3 linked regions of the Homo sapiens genome follow. The protein of the gene in region 3 interacts with the protein of the main gene of each other region in a biochemical or structural test. Each region holds a gene or a part of one and is shown on either strand. Other genes may lie near its edges.

Region 1 (7,024 bases), on a different chromosome or scaffold from region 3:
GACCCTGCTAGCCCCAAGTCCTGCCCCCAGCACAGGCCAGGTACTCAGCAGGGTCATCACTGTTCTGGAAATCCCCTTGCAGGGCATAGAAAGTTCTCAGCGAACACCCATGGAGTAAAACAAGAGGCGGCCTTCACCCTTAGGTGGATTGTAATATTTTAGCACTAAATGCAAAAAGTTCTTTTATGATGGATGCTACAAGATGTAGTTGATGGCTGATAAGAAACATGAAAGTACATGTGCAACCAGTCAGCAATGGTATGTATGTAGGTAGGTAGGTAGGTAGGTAGGTAGGTAGGTAGGTATGTATGTACCTACCTACTTACCTACTTTAGAGATGAGGTCTCACTCTGTCACCCAGGCTGGAGTGCAGTGGTGTGACCACAGCTTGCAGCAGCCTTGAACTCCTGGGCTCAAGCAATCCTCCCGCCTCAGCCTCCAAAGTAGCTGGGACTACAGGCACGTGCTACCACACCCAACTAAGTTTTTAAATTTTTTGTAGAGATGAGGTCTCACTATGTTTCCCAGGCTGTGTGCTGGATTTTGGAAACTGCGTCAAGAAGGGTGGTGGGGAGGGACTGGCCTCCTCTCCAGAGCTCTAGGCACACAAGGACCTCTCATATCCTGCAGTCACTGGCCAGACCAAAGAGGCAGGGAGGGTCCCAGGAGGGAACCCACTACAAACTGTCCCAGTCATCCTGCCAGGCGCTTATGTCCAACCTCGAGCCCTGGGCCTGTTCTGCAAAAGCCTGAGTTGATGTTCTGGGTGGCTGTCAAACATGAAAGGCCTCTTCCTCTCCATCTCTGTCTCCCTTTCTCTCACACAGGCACGCCCCCGCCCAACATGGAGAAGCCCCATCTTTCCTCTAGGCACCTTTTTGGGCACCTGATTCCCTGGGATTCTGGCAAAGGCCCGAGAGTTCTCCCGGACCTTGTGCTTCTTGAGCCCAGGTGCCTCCCACTCAGTAGTTGGTTCCAGGCTCCTCACCTGATCCCACCGTGGAGGCACCTGGGCTGCTTCAAAAGCCCAGATTCCTGGCTCCAGCAATGGGAGTGAGAGGGGTTTCCCAGAGGATTCTGACACTTGGTCTGAGTGACGAACTCTCGTGTAGATGACGTGTTCCCCTTGCTACACCGACGGCATAGCAGTGAGGAACAGTGGAGAAAGGGCATATGTATGGGCTTGAGGTCAGAAGTTCCTGCTCTCACCTGCTGGATGGCACGTGACTTAACCTCTCTGATCTTGGTTTCCTCATTCACAAAACAGGGATGCCACCACCTAACTGACAGGGGCCAGGAAAGGCTGGTGGGTAGTGAAACCAGCTTAGGCCTCTTGCCTCCCCTCTGCCCATGTCCTCTTCCTGGAGTGCAGCCTCTCTCTACCTCATTCCGTCTCTCTCTGCAAATCCTGGTTGGGAATCTCCTCTCCAAACACCGAGGCAGGGCAGGCCCTCGGCAATCACACCCCCCAGCCCTCACCCCTCATGGCTGACCAAAGGAGGGGAGGTGGGGCCGAGGGCTGAGCCCCTCCCTTCCTGTGAACTTTTAAATCACAAGACGATGACGCTGTCTGGTTTTAAGTCCTGTGACTCCAGGACCTTCCAGGCAGAATCACTTATCTACACCTGCGGAGCATGTAATAGTTTACACAATGATTTCTCATTAACCCATGGGGCAGAAAATCTCCGCTTCACAACAGAAATGGAAGGGCACCCATGATGCCACAGTGCCTGGTCACGGTCTCTCCTTGGCCAAAGACCACCCTTCTGCCACCCCTGGCTCCACAGCCTCTGCCTCACTTTCGGGGCCTGTCACTGTGGAGACTGCAGGGCCCCTCCATCCTCCCTCCCACCTGGCTCCCCCAGACAAGCGCTCCCAGCCTGCAGTCCCTCCCCCAGGTCTCTGCCCCCAGCCCCTCTCCCTACACAAGCAGAGCAATCCTTCTAAACCATCTCACCCTCCTCACCTCCTCCCTGATCCCACCCAGGCTCAGGCCTTCCTGAGTGGCTCCTGGTCAGCAGCATCCTAAGCTCCTTACTCAGCCTGGCTGTCCAGGCCACTGGTGATTTGGTCCTCATAACCCTCCATACCAGCTCACACCACACCCATTCACACCCACCACTGGCCACAACCATTCACACCTGCCACCAGCCACACCCATTCACACCCACCACTGGCGACGCCCATGTTGGCACAAGCAGCTCCCTGCAGCAATCCCAGCTGTCCTTGTGTCTCTGAGCACCAAGAGCTGTCTCTTACCCCTGGCTTGCCCAGAGCCTGGCTCTGTCCCTTGACTGAGCAGGTACAGTGGCTATGGTGAGGCGAGGTGCTAGGGCACTCACCTGTGGCCTTCTTGAGGACAGGGGTGTGTTTTATTGGTTATTTATCCCTCTATCCACCCATTCACCCAAGCAGTTACAGAAGGCTATATGCCAGACACGTCAACAACTGACACGGTGACACTCGACGTGTAAAAACAAGTGTACAGTTTACCTTAAGAACATCTTGCTTGCACTTTTCTATTTTGTCTTGCAATTTCTTGAGCTGTTCAGGGTTGAGGGATGGGTCTGCCTTGCTGTTGGCTTCTCGTGAGATAGCCAGCTTCTCCTCTTTGCACGCTGCATGGTGGGCTTTCTTTGCTGCTTCTACCTACAGGGAGAATGAGTTCCTGAATGCCATGTCACTGGGAGTTCAGGATCCTCACTAGAAGTCACACAGACCATGGGAATGCTTGTGCTACCAAGAGGGGAGAAAAAGGCAGGTACAAAATTGTATGTATACTATCATAGCAACCAGTCACAACAGGAACGCACTCAACACATATTCATGGAGTACTTGCTTGTCCTGTGCATGGTTCGAGGCACCAGGAACACAGCAAGAAACACAAGGTCTTTGTGAAGCTTTCATTTGAGTTGCAGGAGGCAGATACAGTATAGGAAAAGTTACATGCCAGAGTCAATTAGAGGGCATTAAGTGTAGGGGAGGACAACTGAGACGGAGCATGGGGTGGGTGGAGAAAGCCACTGAGATGACATGGAACACGCACATGGAGCACGCACATGGAACACGCACATGGAGGGGTTATGGGCATCCCAGGAAGACCATGCCAGGCCGCAGGATCGGCAAATACAAAGAAAGTTCCAAGGAGGAACCCAGCATGAGAGAGAGGACCATACTAGGGGGCAGGGCCATCAGCCACATTTCCTCTGGTTTTAATGGTTTTTACACACACACACACACACACACACACTCTTAACAGATCCTTCCTTATTTGAGCCAAAGCCACAAATTTCATTCTAGAGGGAAGGAGGAGTTTATTAGCAAAGGCCTCATGAGACACAGACAGTTTCATTATGAATGGGGCCAGGGACAAAACAGAAGAGAAAGGAGATGTGACAAAAGCTAAGACACAGAGAAAAGGAGACACAGAGAAAACCATCCGGAAGGACAGAGGCATGTTCTGGATGATTCTGAGGCGGAGGAAGGCAGCGCAAGGCCAGAGAACATCTGGGTGTTGGGGGTGGCACATCTACCGTCTACTCCATTCCAGCTAGGAATGGGGGGCGAGGCTGCAGGCAGGGGCGGGGCACACAAGCTGAGGGCTGGGGTGGACAGATGACAGCCTCCAACTAGCCAAGGCTCGACAAAACTCAATGGCTTTGGTTGCTACTTTTAGAAAAACAGGTATCAATGTTTGAAATTTTGGGATAAAAACCTATGCAAGAGAAAGAAAAATGTAAACTAGTTCTTTCTATCGTCAAAGGGACTTGAAAAAAAAATAAAGTGAAAGCAAGTTTATTGAGAAAGTAAAGGAATAAAGAAAGGCTACTGCACACGCAGAGCAGCCAAAGGGACTTTTTTTTTTTTTTTTGAGACAGAGTCTCCCTCTGTCACCAGGCTGGAGTGCAGTGGCGTGATCTCAGCTCACTGCAACTTCCACCTCCTGGGTTCAAGTGATTCTCCTCCCTCAGCCTCCTGAGTAGCTGGAACTACAGGTGCCCGCCACCACGCCCTGCTAATTTTTGTACTTTTAGTAGAGATGGGGTTTCATCATGTTGGCCAGGATGGTCTCAATCTCCTGACCTCGTGATCCGCCTGCCTCAGCCTCCCAAAGTGCTGGGATTACAGGCGTGAGCCACCGCGCCCGGCAAGGACTTTTAAGTCTCCAGCAGACACTTCCCCAGGGTTGGGAGAAGTACTGTTAGTGGTTAAGAGCTTGGGCTTTGAGCTCTACCACCAATGTATGGTTCTGATCCTCAGTTACCAAATCTGTAAAATGTGTTGGTAGGATCAAATTTAAAGAATGCCCTGTAATTCCAGCACTTTGGGAGGCCAAGGTGGGTGGATCACCTGAGGTCAAGAGTTCGAGACCAGCCTGGCCAACATGGTGAAACCCCGTCTCTACTAAAAATACAAAAATTAGCAGGGTGTGGTGGCATGTGCCGGTAGTCCCAGCTACTCGGAGGGCTGAGGCAGAATTGCTTGAACCCAGGAGGCACAGGTTGCAGTGAGCTGAGATTGCACCACTGCACTCCAGCCTGGGAGAGAGAGTGAGACTTTGTCTCAAAAAATAAAAATAAAAAATTTAAAGAATGCACATAGAGCATTCAGCATCTTCAACCTGGGTAAATGTCAACTACCATGGGCTTCTAGCCTGAGGAGTGGCTTCATCTCTACCAGGTCTGGCCTCCTGTGCCTACAGCCAGTGGCAGGAAGTCCTAGGTGCAGGAGGTGGTGCTGCTAGTGGGGTGCCAGGCAGAGCAAGGCCGGGCAGGGAAGCCTGCAGGACAGATGTACCTCTTTCAGCTTCTTGGCCCAGGGCTTCTGTGCCTTCCGAAAGCCGTCCTCAGCTTCCTTGGTCTCCTTGAAGCCGCCCATCATCTGCTTGTGAAAGGCTTCCTTCTGCCAGTTCTTGATCTTCTCGAAGTCATCGTTCATCAGTGAGGCCTTCACCTCGAGGTGCAGCTCGCTCACCCTCTCTGCCTCGGACATGAAGGCCATCCAGGCCTTCTCCACGGTCCCGTACTGGGGCCCTGTGCAGGGGAGAGAAGCTGCGGGTCACTCAGCGCCGGCCATGGTGGGGTCTGCTCTGCTCACACCTCGGCTGTTCAATGTGGCCATTTAGACCACAGAGGGTTTCCTTTCAGGGTTTCAGATATTTTTCTCTCAGGGACTCTGTGCCTTTTTCAGTTCCCAAAGCTGAATTTGCTCTGCCCCTCGTGTTAGGAAAATTGGGGGATTACATGCCTTTCCTTTATTTTTATTTTTGGGATGGAGTTTCGCTCTTATTGTCCCGGCTGGAGTGCAGAGACGTGATCTTGGCTCACTGCAAACTCTGTCTCCCAGGTTCAAGAGATTCTCCTGCCTCAGCCTCCCGAGTAGCTGGGATTACAGGTGCCCGCCACCACGCCTGGCTAAATTTTTGTATTTTTAGTAGAGACGGGGTTTCACCATGTTGGCCAGGCTGGCTGATCTCGAACTCCTGACCTCAGGTGATCCATTCGCCTCGGCCTCCCAAAGTGCAGGGATTACAGGCGTGAGCCACCGCGCCCGGCCATGCCTTTCCTTTATTTAAAGCCACTGAACTCTATAAAAACTCAAATTTCCACATCTTAGAAGTCTTAATTTACTTAAAGGTGGCCAGAGAAGGGGGGACCTTCTGAAGTGAGCAGATGCTTCTCCCAGGTGTTGGGCACCCACCCACACCATGCCAACGCTTCTCCTGGCATGGCTCCTATCAGCCCTGCTTGGCCCCTGGCTAGCCCTGCACTGCCTTCCTCTGCAGGACTGTGTTCATTCACTCCCAGAAAGAGCCTGGCTCTGAGCACAAGCTTGAGAACACTGTGGAATGAGGACTGTCCCCTCAGCAGAATGGAAGCCCATCCTGCAGGAGGAAGGAGAGGAGGAAGCAGGAGCCTGCTCTGGACCAGTATGGCAGGAGGGGCTGAGTCGCCTCTCCCTACTCACTGTTCTCAGTCCCCGAGGCTCAGGAAGGAAGCCCTAATCCAGGCTGGCATTTCTATTCAGGGGGTAGGGTGGGGTGGCGTGAGGCTGGAGGGAGGGAGAGCCACAACGGAGCCGGGGCAGAAATCGAGAAGATCCATGGCTGGTCTTCAAGGTGGTCACAGGGACAGTGACCAAGTGCGCTGAGTCATGACAGAGGTGGGCTGAGGGGAGGGCAGGCTGTGAGAACCCAGAGGGGGACACGTGACTCTGGGGCTTGGAGACAACAGAGAACAGCCCCGGAAGTTGGACCTCTCTGTGCCTTCGTGTCTACAAAATGAGCACATTCCTGTCCTGTCCACAACGTTACAGCCAGACCCACAAGGTGAGGGTGGTAAGGGTGCTCTGTAAACCTCAAGCTCTGACTGACAGCTTGATCCTGGGAGAGGGGCTGCAGCAGGTGGAAACGAAATGACGACACTGCCACCGACCAAGGGAGCTGACCTATCCTAGGCCCCTCCTCTGCCACGTGCCTGCTCCACAGCCTGGGCACATACCCTGCCCTAAGGACTGTGCTAAGCCCACACAAACAACCCATGTCAGCATCACGGGAAAGGACAGGCAGCTGGACTAGACCTGGCTTGCTTGGGACCTGGCTCCCCTGATTGGCTGAGGACAGCTGGGGCTGAGGACAGCTGGTCAGCACAGGAAAGCCTGCCCCAAAACACACCTTGAGAAACCCACACTGCTCTGCTTCTGTGCCGGAAAGGCTGTAATCAGTCAAGTTCCCCTTCCCTGCTGGGAAGTGTGTTCTAAGCATGGCCCCTGTCCACACAACAGTGGCACTAATAAAGCTACAGAATCTTCTGAGCTTTTCGGTGGGGACAGAAGGGGGTGAAACCTCTGCCATACAACACCTGTAATTATTCCCTTAAAATGTAAACTCAGAAAGACTGCCAGGTGTTGCCAGCTAGTCTTATCTGACCTGCTACATGGCCAAGTTTAAAAATAAACAGCTCTCAGTGTTAGAAACTAAGGTGCCAAGCGGCAAGGCCTTCCACGTGATAGGAACTTACCCGAG
Region 2 (7,024 bases), on a different chromosome or scaffold from region 3:
TACAAGCTCACAAATAGATTAATATACAGACACACAATTAATTAATTATAGGCACCAGTAATAGCAAAACTGCTAGCTTTTTAACCAAAAACCCACTTTTACATCCTGGGCACATAGCTAGGCTACACTTGCCTTCTTCCATTTCTCTTAGGTGTACCACAGAGGGGCCATGTTACAAGTTCCAGCCAACCAAACATAAACAGAAGGAACTATTCCTTCTCTTCATTTTCAGCTGTTGTATAACAAATTACCACAAATTTAGCAGCTTAAAACAATACCCATTTATTATCTTACAATTCTATAAATTAGAAGTCTGGGCCTGCTTAAGTGAGCTCCCTGTTGAGGGCCTCACAAGGCCAAAATGAAGGCGTTGGCTAGACTGGGCTCTTATCTGGAAGCTTGGGGGAAGAATTCCCTTCCTCTCAGATTCTTCAAGGCTGTGGGTCTAAGATCCCTATTTTCCCTGCTGATGGTCACCAAAGAGCTGATTTCTGCTCCTAGAGGCTGCCTGCATTACTACTCACATGGCCCCTCCCTCTTTAAACCAACAACAGCATGTCCAGTCCTGCTCATACTTCCAATCTCTCTGATTTTTCCTTCCACTACCAGCCAGAGAAAATATCCTGCTTTTAAAGGGCTCATGAGATTAGATTAAGTCCAATCATATAATCTCCCTTTTGTCTTACAAAGTTAAAAGTCTCAGGAATAACATCTTTTCAAATTGAACATTGCACCCACACTCAAAGGGGAGGAGAGTACACAAGAGCAAGAGTCACCAACAATCGTAGCATTCTGTCTACCATATTCCTCTTCCAGGCCTGGCTTATGAACATCTCCCATGCTTGTTCAAACATATTCTTTCCCTTTGGCAACCTTGAAAACCATATGTTACAGATGGCAGAACCGATCCAGGGTCATCCTGAGTCCCTGAAGCAAATAACGGGAAATATAAATGAAAAAGACTTTGAGCAACAAAGTACCATTAAGACTTCTTGGTTAAGCCAAAGTATCAGGCCCTCTTGTTAAGTTCAGAGTAACACAACCAAGTCTACTGGATGAAAATTAGGTCTAAAAAAGAATTTCCATCATAGAAATTGGCAAATGAAACTCACAAGAAAACACATCAGAAGCCTATTAAGTTGAAGTTTTTCTGGTTTTTTTTTTTTGGTTTTTGTTTTTTTGAGACAGTGACTTGCTCTACTGCTCAGGCTGGAGTGCAGTGGTGCAATCTGGCTCACTGCAACCTCTGCCTCCCAGGTTCAAGCAACTCTCCCAGGTTCAAGCTTCAGCCTCCCGAGTAGCTGGGACTACAGGCGTAGGCCACCATGCCTGGCTAATTTTTGTAGTTTTAGTAGAGAAGCGGCTTCACCATGTTGTCCAGGCTGGTCTTGAACCCCTGGCCTCAGGTGACCCGCCCACCTCGGCCTCCCAAAGTGCGGGGATTACAGGCATGAGCTACCGCACTTGGCCAGAAGCCTACTAAGTTTATGAAGAAATTTCATTACTCAAATCTACCATGGATAGTGAAAACCCTATGACTGTAAAACAATCCCCAAATTTAAATAAACAGGAAGTTGACTGAAAAGTTATGCCGTTCCCAAAGAGGGCAGATTTCCTCTAACCCTCCTTAGACCTGGCCAAATATATATAAGAAAGAACAAGAGTTCTTCCCAGATTGCAGAGCCAGATTGTAAAACCAAGGAACTTCCTCTACTGGCAGGCAGGGGATTTCACAATGCCCCCTGCAGGATGCCATCACTGTTATGGACAATAACTGTCCTGACTCCCCTTCTCTCCTTTCCTCACTGGAGTCATTCACTGTGGACATTATTTCCTGTACTTTTTGTTTTGTTTTGTTTTGTTTTTGAGACAGTCTCGCTCTGTCGCCCAGGCTGGAGTGCAACGGTGTGATCTTGGCTCACTGTAGCCTCCGCCTCCCAGGTGCAAGCAATTCTCCTGCCTCAGCCTCCTGAGTAGCCAGAAATACAGCTGTGCATCACCAAGCCTGGCTAATTTTCCCATTTTTAGTAGAGACGAGGTTTTGCCATGTTGGCCAAGCTGGTCTCAAACTCCTCAAGTGATCTGCCTGCCTCGACCTCCCAAAGTGCTGGGATTGCAGGCATGAGCCACCGCACCCAGCCGATTTCCTGTACGTTTAAAAGCATAGGCTATCTGCTTTATGTTTCTTTCAAGCATTATTCTGTGATACGGTTTGGCTGTGTCCCCACCCAAATCTCATCTTAAACTGTAGTTCCCACAATCCCCATGTGTCATGGGAGGGACCTGGTGGGAGGTAATTGAATCATAGGGGTGGTTACCGCCACACTGTTCTCGTGATAGTGAGTGAATTCTCACGAGAGCTGACGGTTTTATAAGGGGCTTTTACCCCACTTTGCTCTGTACTTCTCCTTGCTGCCGTCATGTGAAGGACATTTTTGATCCCCCTTCTGCCATGACTGTAAGTTTCCTGAGCCCTCCCTAGCCATGCAGAACTGTGAGTCAATTACACCTCTTTCCTTTATAAATTACCCAGTCTCGGGTATGCCTTTATTAGCAACATGAGAACAGACTAATACATAGCTTGATATTGAGATGTTTCTCAGCATTATAAAACTGCTTCCATTAGTATCTATGGGGAAAGGTTAGTTTGAATTATAAAAAAGATATTTCTATTTTTTATATATATCATAATTCAAAAAAAGGCAGAAAACACTGCCTAGAGGTCCTTCAGTGTCCTAAGTATCCAAGTAAACCTCCATGGAGCTGTGGGTTCTTCACGAGTATTACAGACAGCTTCTCCATATTCATTACTACTATATACAATTTGACCCAGGGGATGGCGGAGGGAGATTAGGGTAGAGCAACTACAACATCATATTTGGCATTTAGAAGTTGTACTAAATGTAAAACCTTTATAAATAGTGAAATTATTTCCTGAAGCATTTGTCATCAGCTAATGATTTAGTATAGCATGAAAATATTTTGTTGGTAGAATGCAAAAGACTTGGCAGGGTCTCACAATCATGGCATTTTAATAAGTATAGTTATAGCTCTCTTTAGTCTTTATTATCCATCGGATACCATGTACATCATTCTTAAGCTTTTAGGCTCCTTAAGTGATTATGGAAACAATAAATTCTAAACCAAAAACACTGAGAAGGGTTGTACTACAAAGTTTCAAAACTTCACATGTTGTCTCCTGCTGCCTCTTGCTGCCTCAACATTCATTCCCACATACGCTAACTGTGAACACCCCACCCAGGTAACCAGGTGCACAAGTTTGATAAGGTTGGCCCCTACCACAAGTTCACCTCTCTGTCTTCTTCTGACCACGACCTACCAATGCACCAATGCAACGCACTGTGAACTGCACTGAGCTGTGAACTGCACTGAGATCACTAGTAAAGGCACTTGCCCACAGTCCTTGCTCTCTCTGCTCCCACCTGTTTCCCACCTGCTTAGCTGATCCTGCTCTCAGAGCTGTCACCTCCACCCCACGTGTCCCCCCTCCTATCCTCCTGTACAGTGATTGTCATTCTAAGACATGTGAGTATAATAAACTCTGTTTTCTTGAGCCTCTCCTATGTCCCCTCTTGTGGCTACACCTCACTGAACATTACCTAAAAGAACACAGGACAAGGGTACGAAGGATTAAAAGAACAAAAAGAGAAAAAAGGAGGCCAAAAAATCCACTGACTTCTTACCTACTTAGCATCTCCCCTATCTGGCCTTAAATTGAGAAGAATTGCTCATCTCTAGAAAGCCCCATCAGGTATCCACCTTAAAGTTTGAAGCAGTTCTTAAACTCCATCTCCTCACCTAATTCTCATTATTCATTTGTCAGTGTGTCCTGCCCTTCTCTCGCCGCTGCCTCAAGCTACTCCTCTGAAGAAAGCCCTCGGGTTGCTTGATGCCCTGAGACTCTGTATGCAGCACAAGAGGCTTGGCAGAATGGAATCTGCTCTGCAAGCTTCAGCTCCCTTCCCCTGAATATTAAACCTCTCCCTTCCACAATGACATCTGTCTCAAAACAGTCACCATTTGCCCCAACCAAGTCTTGCCATTTTCTAGGGTACTTCTAATTAATTTGCAGGTTACTTTAAAATTTTCTAAGTAGACTGAAACCAAAATTCATATAAACTCAATTTAAAATATTAAAGAATCACTATGGGGAAAAAAGCTTGCAAAAATATAGCTGTTTCAACAACACAAACTTCAATCACGAGGACTCTCAGTCTACAGAGAAATCATTTTCAGTCACCACTTTCTTTTCATATACCCCACAGGCCCGTATCGTTGACTTCAAGCGCATTAACAACATTTTGTTTTACATGGTTCAAGTGATCCTTATTATGCAAGCATGGCACTCTCACAAGCATTACCTCATTCAATCCTGACACCTCTGGAAAGGTTTTTTACATTTGATTGCTGCTAAATTAATGCAGAGAAGGCTGCATTTTGATCAGGCATCCTAAAGCCCAGTAACAGAACTGTTGGAGTGATTATTGTAAGAAACATCCACTTTCTCCTGATGACATGATGAATTTATTTATTTATTTATTTGAAACAGAATCTCACTCTGTTGCCCAGGCTGGAGTGCAGTGGCACCATCTTGACTCACTGCAACCTCGGCCTCCTGGGTTCAGGCAATTCTCCTGCCTCAGCCTCCTGGGTAGGTGGGATTACAGGCACCTGCCACCTCGCCCAGCTAATCTTTTTGTATTTTTAGTAGAGACGAGGTTTCACTGCACTGGCAAAGCCGGTTTTGAACTCCTGACCTCAAGTGATCCGCCCGCCTTGGCCTCCCAAAGTGTTGGGATTACAGGAGTGAGCCACCACGCCCCACCCTATTTTTACTTTTCGAGGGGAGGAAGGGGCAGCAATTAGGAATTTATTTAAGAATCTGGTAACAGGCTAAGGGCATTCTCCCTCAGAAAAATGCATGTATAAAATGTTACTTATAATTTTATAAAATATATAGGCCCCTTGCAGCCTATTAGAGACTACTGGCTAAGAATGTGAAAGGGTACAGGTGTAGAAATCCTGGGTCAAGCAACAAGCCACAGCCAAGATTTTAAAGGCAGCAGAGAGTTGACTGCTTAGAGGCAATTAAGAAACTGAAAATCTCACTGAGATAAAGTCATAACTAATTAGATATTTAATCCAATACTTAGTAAGTTTAACATCTCACCAAATCAACAAATGCATGAAAAGACTTATGTAATGGTCTCCTGAGCAAAGCATCCATATAAAATACAGCATTCTGAAAGAGGAAATTAGGTAAAACAAAAAGACACAGAACACAAACATGATGAAATTTTCCCAGTTAAGGAATCTGAGTGTGACAAATAAACATATACCAGACTGTATCATAAAACCCAGCCTACCCAAATTAATTTTATCATTTAAAAAAATCAGAAAACACAATTTATAATAGGTATATTTCTGACTTAGTCTGTTCAGGCTACTAACAAAATATCTTAGACGGGGTAATTTATAAATAATAGAATTTATTTCTCACAGTTTGGGAGGCTAGCAGTCCAAGATGAAGGCACTAACAGATTTGTGCCTGGCTAGGGCCCACCCTTTGCTTCAAAGATGGTGCCTTGTTGCTAAACCCTCACACGGTGGAAGGGGACAGGGTGACCCCTTCAACTTCTTTTAAGAGAGCACTAATCCCATTCATGACTTAATCATGAGTGCCCTCATGACTTAGTCACCTCCTAAAGGCCCCATTTCTTAATACTGTCACATTGGCAGTCAAGCTTCAACATACGTATTTTAGAGGGACACATTCAGAACTTAGCAATATACTAACCAACTCATTAAAAAAGGAGAAAGTATATCTTTTTGATGCAATAGAAAGTTATATGTTATTTATAGGCTGAACTGTCCTCTTAGATGTTGAATCAAATATAGAATACTGTGGTTAATCCTTTTATGCAAATAACGACTGTTATGGATTGAACTGTGCCCCTCCCAAAATTCATATTAAAGTCCTAATTACAATAGCTCAGAATGCAACTTTATTTGGAAATAGGGGCATTACAGATGGTAATTATTTAAGATAAAATCATACTGGAGTAGGATGGGCTTGCCCAATCCTATATGACTGGGGTCCTTACAAAATGGGGAAATTTGGACACTGAGACACACACAGGGAGAATGTCATGTGAGCATGAAGGCAGAGACCAAGGTGATGTATCTACAAGCCAAGGAAGCCCAAAGATTCCCAACAAAGCACAAGAGCTAAGAAGGCAGCCTCGAATAGATCCTGTCTCATACCTTCAGAGAGCTCGTGGCCCTACTGGCACCTTGGTCTCAGACTTCAAGTGTGCTTGTCTCAAGAAGTGGGAAACAATGTATTTCTGTCGTTGAAACGACTCAGTTTGTAGTACTTTGTTACAGCAGCTCCAGCAAACTCATAAAATGACCTAATATATTTTACTTTATAATAGACTTTTACATATTGTAAAGCAAAATGTGTCCACATCATATGCATGATAGAGTGAATTTTTAAAAATACAGATTTTGTAGGAGCTTCATGTTCACTGGAAACAGCTATTTTTAACTAAGCTGCTGCCAGTTTAAAACAAGTGTAAAAAAACTGACATGACTTTTGTAAAATGAAATCTCAATATGAATAAAACTCACTAAAAGAGCAACACAAGATCATCTGCCCTTTATTACAGTAAAAAAAGAATACTTTATTCTAATTATACAGTAAATTATATCTTTATGAGCAATTAAGTAATGAAGTACATGAAAATAAGATGATCAATCAATTTTTGGTATCATTATATATTTTCATGCTGAAAGGATTTTCTTCTCTAATAAATTTTACTTGGCAAAAGCATTTTTTTACCTCCAAATTGTAAACATATTGAAAATAACTGTCAGCAACAAGGTAGAAATAACCAATTCTAATATAAGACAACAGTTGTGACACATTTAATCAGAAATTCCAAGTACAAACAATATACTGTTTTATTTATCATCGCTTACTAACACAAGCAAAAAAGCT
Region 3 (7,766 bases):
TGCGCCATTCCCCCCATCTCTCCCTTACACTCTAGCCCTGCCTTCCCTCACTCCTTGGAATACACCAAGCTCTTTTGTGCATAGTCAACTTTGCACATTCCCATCCCTCTGCCTGGAAGGCCCTCCCCTGCAATCTCTCTGCCTGGCCAGTTCCTTCTCCATTTTCCAATCTCAGAAAGGCTTTCCCTTCCAAAACTAGGACCAACTTGTGCCACCAGCCCCTACTTTGGTCCCAGGTTTGTTTCCTTGATAACAAGGAATCACTCATCTGTTAGAGGTTGTTTCTTCTGCTTCTTCCTTGTTGCTCATCTCCTCCAGAGGAATGCAAGCTCCAGAAGGGCAGTGCCAGGTCTATTTCGTCCACCACTGTATCATCAGGACTCCACACAGGGCTTAGCATGGCGCAGGTGCTCAATGCATGGTTGTTCAATTGATGAATTAAAAGAGAAAGTGTGAGGCTGACATTGAAAGATGAGGCTGGAAATAGAAGGCCTTGAGAACAGGGTCCTATTCATCTTTGCAGGACTGGCACCTCCCACAGGGAAGCCACTTAGCAAATGTTTCACTGGATGCATGAAAGAAAAACTCGATTCCAGATAAATCTGAGATGTGCTGTCCTTTCTGGGCAAGGCTCCCCAAGAAGTTTCCGCTCCTCCTTAGGACTTCTTAGGAGGTAACATGTCTAGGGCATACAGCAAGTGCTTAATAAATGGGGTGACTGTTACTATTGCTCACGTGGGGATCACTCATGCAGTCTCCTAGAAAAGACCTTCCGGAGCCCATGCCAGATACAGCAGTGGTTGGGTGAAAAAACGGCAGGGAAAAATGAGAACCGAGCAGCAGGATCCAAATACGGCTGAGACCTAGGTGGGGAAATGGCAGGAACAACACTGTCCTAGCTAACTGGGGTTCCCTTCTTTCCTCTAGACTTCAGTCACCTAGGTGCAGCATGGAGATGCCAGCTGGGACGTGAGTCTTCACAAGGGAGGGCTCAATCTGAATGCACACATTCATCTTTGGGCCTGCCAGGCTTGCACTGATTTTGAAAATCTGGCTCGCTGTGGCTGGTGAGGACTGGGGAGGTGTAGAGAATTTCAATTTCCCTCACCAAATGGCAAGCTTGCGAAAAGTCCTTTCTCTCCAACATTATCACATACTAAAAATGAAAAACCAGCCATTCAGAGCTCTCATGAGAAAAATAGATGGGCTGCTTAGCTCACAAGAAACAGGAGGGCTGAAAATCAAGTCTAGAGAACATCAGAGGGTACATTATGTGCTAAGATACTGCCCTTTTTTGGACCTGGGAGTTTCTATTTTGCACAAAAGAATGGGATAGGGAAAGTAATTCCCCGTATAATAAGCCACTCATTTTATACTTCAAATCCATTTGGTAGCTGAATCTCCAAATCCACTTAGTGGCGTTAGGTGATTTTTGTTTTTTTTAACTCCCTATCTCAAAATATGCAGTTTGAAATAAGTGCATATCTCAAAAATAGCAGCATTAACAGGACAGAAGAGAAGGCACTAAAGTGGTGAAGGCTGTGACGCAAAGAAGACGTTTCCAAATCTGTTTCATGGCTAACAGATCAAAATCTAACACAGAAGGGGCATGGGACTGAGCCTGAAGAAGTGGAAACTACTCCTGGCCATGTGATCTTGGGCAAGTCAGGTCACCTTTCTGGGCCTTCTCTGAAGGGGGTGAATCAGTTGTTCTCAAAGATCTTTTTCTTTCCAAACTGTTCACTGGGTGTTTCCAGAAGACCCGCATTTTCTTAAAGCTATCTGGCCGCGCTACAATTGCAAAACAGAAAGGCTTTGGGATGAAGGTTGCAATACAGATAACCCTGGCCTAAAAACTGATAAGCTTTTACAATCCCAAAACATTACTCAGCAATCCAGGTCCTGATGTCATCCCAGAATCAATCACGCCAAGATAACCTAACAGAGTAGACAGGGGAAAATGCGAGAGAAAGTTCTTTTGCTTTCCTGACGAGTACAGGTAAAGTTGAGGTCAAGTTAACGATGATGGTCTGCAGTTGACCATCCTTCTCCCTGAGCTACTGGAAAACCACATTATTAAAGGAAACTGCTTTAGAAGTGCCCAAGATGAACCTCTTGGGATGTATCAAACCGCAGAAAACCGGACACCGGCAAGTTTCTTTTTTCTTTGAAACTTCATGTCGCTCTCAGAAAACGCAGCAGGTCCCAAAATGGTACAAGCAGAAAACACAAGCCACTTCACGGTCCGCCCAGGAGCCAACCCCAAGCTCCAAGTAGGACTCCCCCCACCCCCTTCCCTTTCGTTTCTCTTCTTTTGCTTTAGGCAAGTGGCCTGGGGCCTGCCAAGCAGCGCCGGGTCCGGGTAGGGGCCGGGGGCCGCGGGGAACTTTCCTCGGCTGCACCAGAGACAATGCCGGGAGGGCGCCCCATCGGCGGGGTCCGGGCCGCCAAGCACGTCGTCCCGGGCCCTCCCCCGGAGGGGGACGCGAAACCCCCCAGGGCGGGCCCCGTCCCCGGCCCCACTGCAGGGGCCCCCTCTCCCGAGCTGGAGGCGAGGAGACCTCCCCCCCCCACCGGGCGGCCTCGCCCGGCCCCGCAGAGCCTGGCCGCGCGTCCCGCACACGCCCCAGCCCAGGGCCGGCGCCCTCCCCGCGGAGAAGGACACCCCGCTGCGAGAGGAGCCGGGAGCCCGCCCCGCGCCCCGTCCCGGCGCCCTTCTTCGCGCGAGAGACTGGGCAGGGGGCGCCCGCGACTGTGGGCGACTCCGCCCGGCCCCGCCGAGCGCGCCCGAGCGCCCCGCAACTCACCGGGACCTGGCGGGCCGCTGGGCATTATTCCATCGCGGGTTCGGCCGGGCGCTCGCGGCTCTCGGGTGGGAAAGCGAACTGCGACCGGGAAGCGCCGGCTGGGCGGGAGGCGCGGGCCCGGGGCTGCCCAGCGCACAGTGCTCGCCCGCGGCAGCGGCCAGGCCAGGCGAGGCGCGGGAGCCGAGCGCGGCGCAGGAAGGGGCGGGCGACCATGTGCCGAGGGGGAGGAGGCCGCGGCGACGCGAGCGGCTCGCACGATCCCGCTCGGCGGCGGAGGGCGCGGGTTTCAGGAAATCCAAACACTTCGACAGGAAATCGGAATCCTGACTAAGCATTCCCGGCCCCGAGCCGCTCCGCGCCGGGGGCTCCCGCCTCGCTTAACCCTTGGCCCGCCGGCAGCCACGAGGGGGGCGTGGGAGGGGCCCCAGACCTCGGCCGGGGTCGGGCGTCCTTCGCCTTCCGCCCCATGCCCCGGCCGGCCGGCCTCCTCCCCGCCTGAGGTGGAAGGGGTGGGATTTATCCACAGAAAACCCTGGACGCGGAAGGTGCCTTTCTAAGGCCGGGACAGCGGCAAAGGACGTGCCTGTCTTCCATCTGCAGAGGATGGACCTGCACTGTCCTGGCCGTTACCCCTATTTTCAGTAAAGGAATGATTTCACCAGGCTGCCCCCTTTCACCACTTCCTCTCTGCTCTTATAATTTTATTTTTGCCCAGTGCCAAGGGAACAGGACCTTCCCAGTCAGGATAGTATAGGAACAGTATGGAGAGTAATTGTGTGGGCTGCAGGCTCTGTGTCCGGTTGGAATATGGCCTTTTTTCTACTCATGTTACCTTGAGTAACTCGCTCAACTTTCCTGAGCCTCAGTTTCCATTTATGAAATGGATGTTAATTCCACCCTCATAGGTTTGATCTGGAAGCTGAATGTTTAGACAGGGACTGGCACATTGGAAACGCCCAAATAAATGATAGCCATGCTTGTCCTTATTATTACCATTAAAAGACATCAGAGAAAGGAGGATTTTAATTTGTGGGATGTATATTGTGCATATCTATGTCTACTTTCAAAGTCAGAGACAGTAGTCTTTCTTTAGAACTTAATTTCCCTCCTAATCATTGGGTGATTGTTTTTCTTTGCAGCATTTCAGAAACGGCTCTCTGCAGAGGAAATGGTTAGTGGCTGTGGCAGACCCCCTTCTGGTGAAATCCGAAACAGAAAACCTCACAAAATTTGGGATTTTGCTCCTAATCTGAGAGTCTGGGTGTAGTGGGGAGTGGGGGTTGTTAAACAGTCTGGAGCGGATTTACAAAGTTTGGGAAAACCAAAATCAATCTCTGACTGGGCAGAGAGGTCGGGCAGCCAATGAGTGATTCATTGTGGTTTCCCACGGAAATGCCACATTTCGGGGGTGTCTACCTGGAGGATGCAGCTTGGTGGTTTTGCTGTAAGTGTTTCAGATTCCTTTGAAACCCAATCAGACTTTGAAGAGGGAACAACATGCTCATGAGCGAAAACAGAAGCCTGAAATGAACCTGCTGGGAACTGAAAGTTGGGTACCAGCTCGTTTACTCCAAGTAAGGAACAGATACCAGTTTTAGACCCAGCATTGTTCCTTTTCTGCAATTCTCTCTCCGTGGCCAGAAGCAGTAGGACAGCTCTGAGCTGGGCACCAGGAGTCCCAGGGTCCTGCTCCAGGCCCACTGTAGCTGCCGTCCCCTCTGCCTGGAAGAACCCTTGTATGGCTGTTCTTGGCACGCAGCTCACAGCCCAGAAGTCAGCTCCGCAGATAGGTTTTCCCCAACCATGTGATCTGCTTGTCTCTGGCACCTACACCCCACCTCCACCTCTCCCAAACATAGCGCATCCTGTTTGATTGCTTCATAGCCCTTGTCACTGTTTAATGTAGCCTACATGATTGGTTGCTTATTTTTTATCTGCCCCCCACTCTCCCCACTGCATGGGTAAACTGCATTACAGCAGTACCTTTGCCTGTTTCCTTAGAACAGTGCTGGCCCATATGAGACCATCGATAAACACGTGTTGAATAAATGAAAGAAGCAAACAAACTAGAGTTGCAGATGGGACCTCTGCCTGAGGTAGGGTGGTTCACTCGGTCCCGCAGCTCCCTGTGGCTTCCTCTTTGGTGGAGAGATTCAAAAGGGAACGCCCAGTGCGGTGGAAGGAGCACCAGATGGCTCTATTAGTGCTTCTGGAAAACTAAAACTATAAGTAGGCCAGGCGCGGTGGCTCACGCCTGTAATCCCAGCACTTTGGGAGGCCGAGCAGGTAGATCACCTAAGGTCAGGAGTTTGAGACCAGTCTGGCCAACATGGTGAAACCCCGTGTCTACTAAAAATACAAAAAATTGCCGGGCGTGGTGGTGGGCACCTGTAATCCCAGCTTCTCCAGAGGCTGAGGCAGGAGAATCGCTTGAACCCGGGAGGCAGAGGTTGCAGTGAGCTGAGATCATGCCATTGCATCCCAGACAGGGTGACAGAGTGAGACTCCGTCTCAAAAAAAAAAAAAAAAAAAAAAAAAAAAAAAACCTAAGTAATTAAGACTGTCAAATGAGGTAACTATAGTCTCATTGGTATAGTCCCAGTTAATTACTCCCTCCTTTGTGCTTCCTTGGCATTTCTGTTTAAAGAATATATTTGTCATATTGTATACTCACTAGATGACTGTTCTCCTAAATCAGATGGAGGAAAGGAGTCCACATTTGTTGACCACTTGCTCTGAGTGGGTCCCTGAGCAAGGTGAACTTGAATTCATTTTAAGGCATCGGTTAAGTGCCTGTAATGTGCTAAAAAAATCTGGGCCCTACATGTGCAATGATGAAAAAGAACTATTCTTGCTAAGAAAGACAGGAAAGCTCTATCTAGTAAGCAGAGAGATAAGTACTCTTATAGAGTCATGTCCAGGGTATCCAGGGCTATTCAGAACATTGAAGGTGGAGTAGGGTGGAGATAAGTTGGAAAATGCTTCCAAGAAGTGGGTGCTCTTGAACGAACTTTCAAGGAGGAGATGGGACCTATGTAGCTAGATAAGGGGGCACAGGCCTGCCAACCAGAGTAACAAGCGTGAGTGTTAGTGATGCTCGGCTCCATGTCCCCTGGGCCCACCTCTGAGCTCACCGGCAGCTGCAATGAGCTGCCCTCTGTACAGAGAAACTGTCTATCCAAAGCAGGCCCCCTTTCTCCTCTCTACCAGGAGGCTTTCTCAAGGGCTGTGGGATCTTGCCTAGCCTGGAAGTTTCCAACAGCCCTGGGTCAGTCCTTAACCAAACAGTGGATGAATGTGTCAGCCTCCCCTTCCCTAAGGAAGATCAATTCTCAAATGCTCTCAAGGCAGTTCCTCAGAGGAATTCCCCAGTAGGAATGAGTCCAGTTGCCCCCAGCAGTCACTCCCTCATTAAGTCACTCTTTGATTTTGCCTCTTCTCCCTTCCTTGCCTTACTTTCTCACTTCCTTATTTGTTCTTGGGATCCCAAATAAAGTAACTGCACCCATCTCCTTGTCTCAAGGTATACTTCTGGGGAAACCCAATCCAGAGTAGTGTTCATGCATATATTCACAGATACTGGCTGGGCACTCCCAAGTGCCTGAGTAAAGACTGAGCATGAACACATAATATATGTGGGTGACTCTACCAGGTTCAGCATGATCTGAGAACATGATGCATGTTCAGACATGGAAAACAATGAGACTAAAAAGCCTTACACCATCTTGCAGTTGAGGAAACTGAGGCACAGGAGTGTTGAGTAACTTGCCCAAGGCCAACCACTAGTGAGTAGAGGAGTGTATTAGTCCATTTTCAGGCTTCTGATAAAGACATACGTGAGACTGGGAAATTTACAAAAGAAAGACATTTAATTGGACTTACAGTTCCACGCAGCTGGGGAAGCCTTACAATCACAGCAGAAGACAAGGAGGAGCAAGTCATGTCTTACGTGGATGGCAGCAGGCAAAGAGAGAGAGAGTTTGTGCAGGGGAATGCATATGGGAATTCAAGATGAAATTTGGGTGGGGACACAGCCAAACCATATCAAGGAGCATTGGAGTCCAGGCTCTTCACCACCCTGCACTGTCTTTCTTGCCAGTTCAAGCTGTTGGGAGAGTGAATAATGAGAAGAAGAGAACCAGAGGAGAACCAGGGGGCATGGGAAGAAATTGCTTTTACAAGGAAGGAATGAGCAACATTCACAAATGTCACAGGAAATTTCATCAAGAAAGGACCAGAAAGCAAGTGTTCATTTCATTTGACAATGAGAAGGCTGATAACTTTTACCAGAGCTGTCTCGATGGAGTGGAGGGATTGGAAGCCAGATTGCGGTGGGTTGAGGACGGAGTGGGAGACAGTAAGCGTGGACAACTCTTTTCAGAAATGTAGCTGTCTAGCAAGTGGGAGGTAAGGGTAGAGGCTTCTTTAAAAATGTGTGGGCAGGCAAGCATCTGGGTTGGTAGGTGAGGTTGAGAGGAAGGGATGGTTCATTGATAGAACAGGTACTGAGGATGAGAGGAGATGGGAACTAGAGTGGGTTGGGGGCACGAACCCTGGACTGGAAGAGGCCACCTTGTCTGCTGAAGGAGAGGGCCGAAGGGCAAGGTGCAGAACTCTAAAGTTCCACCATGAACATCCTGAAGTCACAGACCAGGAGCTAGGTGGGTATCTTGAGTTTAGACCCCTGAGTTTAATTCCTTATGAAAATCATGCTCTGGGCTAGGCAAGGTGGCTCATGCCTGTAATCCCAACACTTTGGGAGACCCAAAGCAAGGGAATCATTTGAGCCCTGGAGTTTGAGACCAGCCTGGGCAAAATGGCAAGACCCCATCTCTACAAAAAAATTTAAAATTAGCCAGACATAGTAGTATGTGCTTCTAGTTCCAGCAACTTGGGAAGCTGAGGTGGGAGGATCCCTTGAGGTGGGAGGATCGCTTGAGCCTGGAGGTCAAGGCCTGC

What was found. Proteins that work in one complex are often made in the same cells at the same time.
Region 1: the proteins of ASAP1 (region 3) and PACSIN2 form a complex in vitro, tested with the Homo sapiens proteins (one study listed by IntAct).
Region 2: the proteins of ASAP1 (region 3) and SH3GL2 form a complex in vitro, tested with the Homo sapiens proteins (one study listed by IntAct).

What each region holds. Positions count from the first base shown.
Region 1 is NC_000022.11:42,886,150-42,893,173, forward strand, and holds part of PACSIN2 (protein kinase C and casein kinase substrate in neurons protein 2), read right to left. Parts: intron 5,034-7,024; coding exon 4,798-5,033; intron 2,650-4,797; coding exon 2,494-2,649; intron 1-2,493.
Region 2 is NC_000009.12:17,582,042-17,589,065, reverse strand, and holds part of SH3GL2 (endophilin-A1), read right to left. Parts: intron 1-7,024. UniProt on the Homo sapiens protein: Implicated in synaptic vesicle endocytosis. May recruit other proteins to membranes with high curvature. Required for BDNF-dependent dendrite outgrowth.
Region 3 is NC_000008.11:130,440,653-130,448,418, forward strand, and holds the start of ASAP1 (arf-GAP with SH3 domain, ANK repeat and PH domain-containing protein 1), read right to left. Parts: upstream 3,023-7,766; 5' UTR 2,808-3,022; intron 1-2,807. UniProt on the Homo sapiens protein: Possesses phosphatidylinositol 4,5-bisphosphate-dependent GTPase-activating protein activity for ARF1 (ADP ribosylation factor 1) and ARF5 and a lesser activity towards ARF6.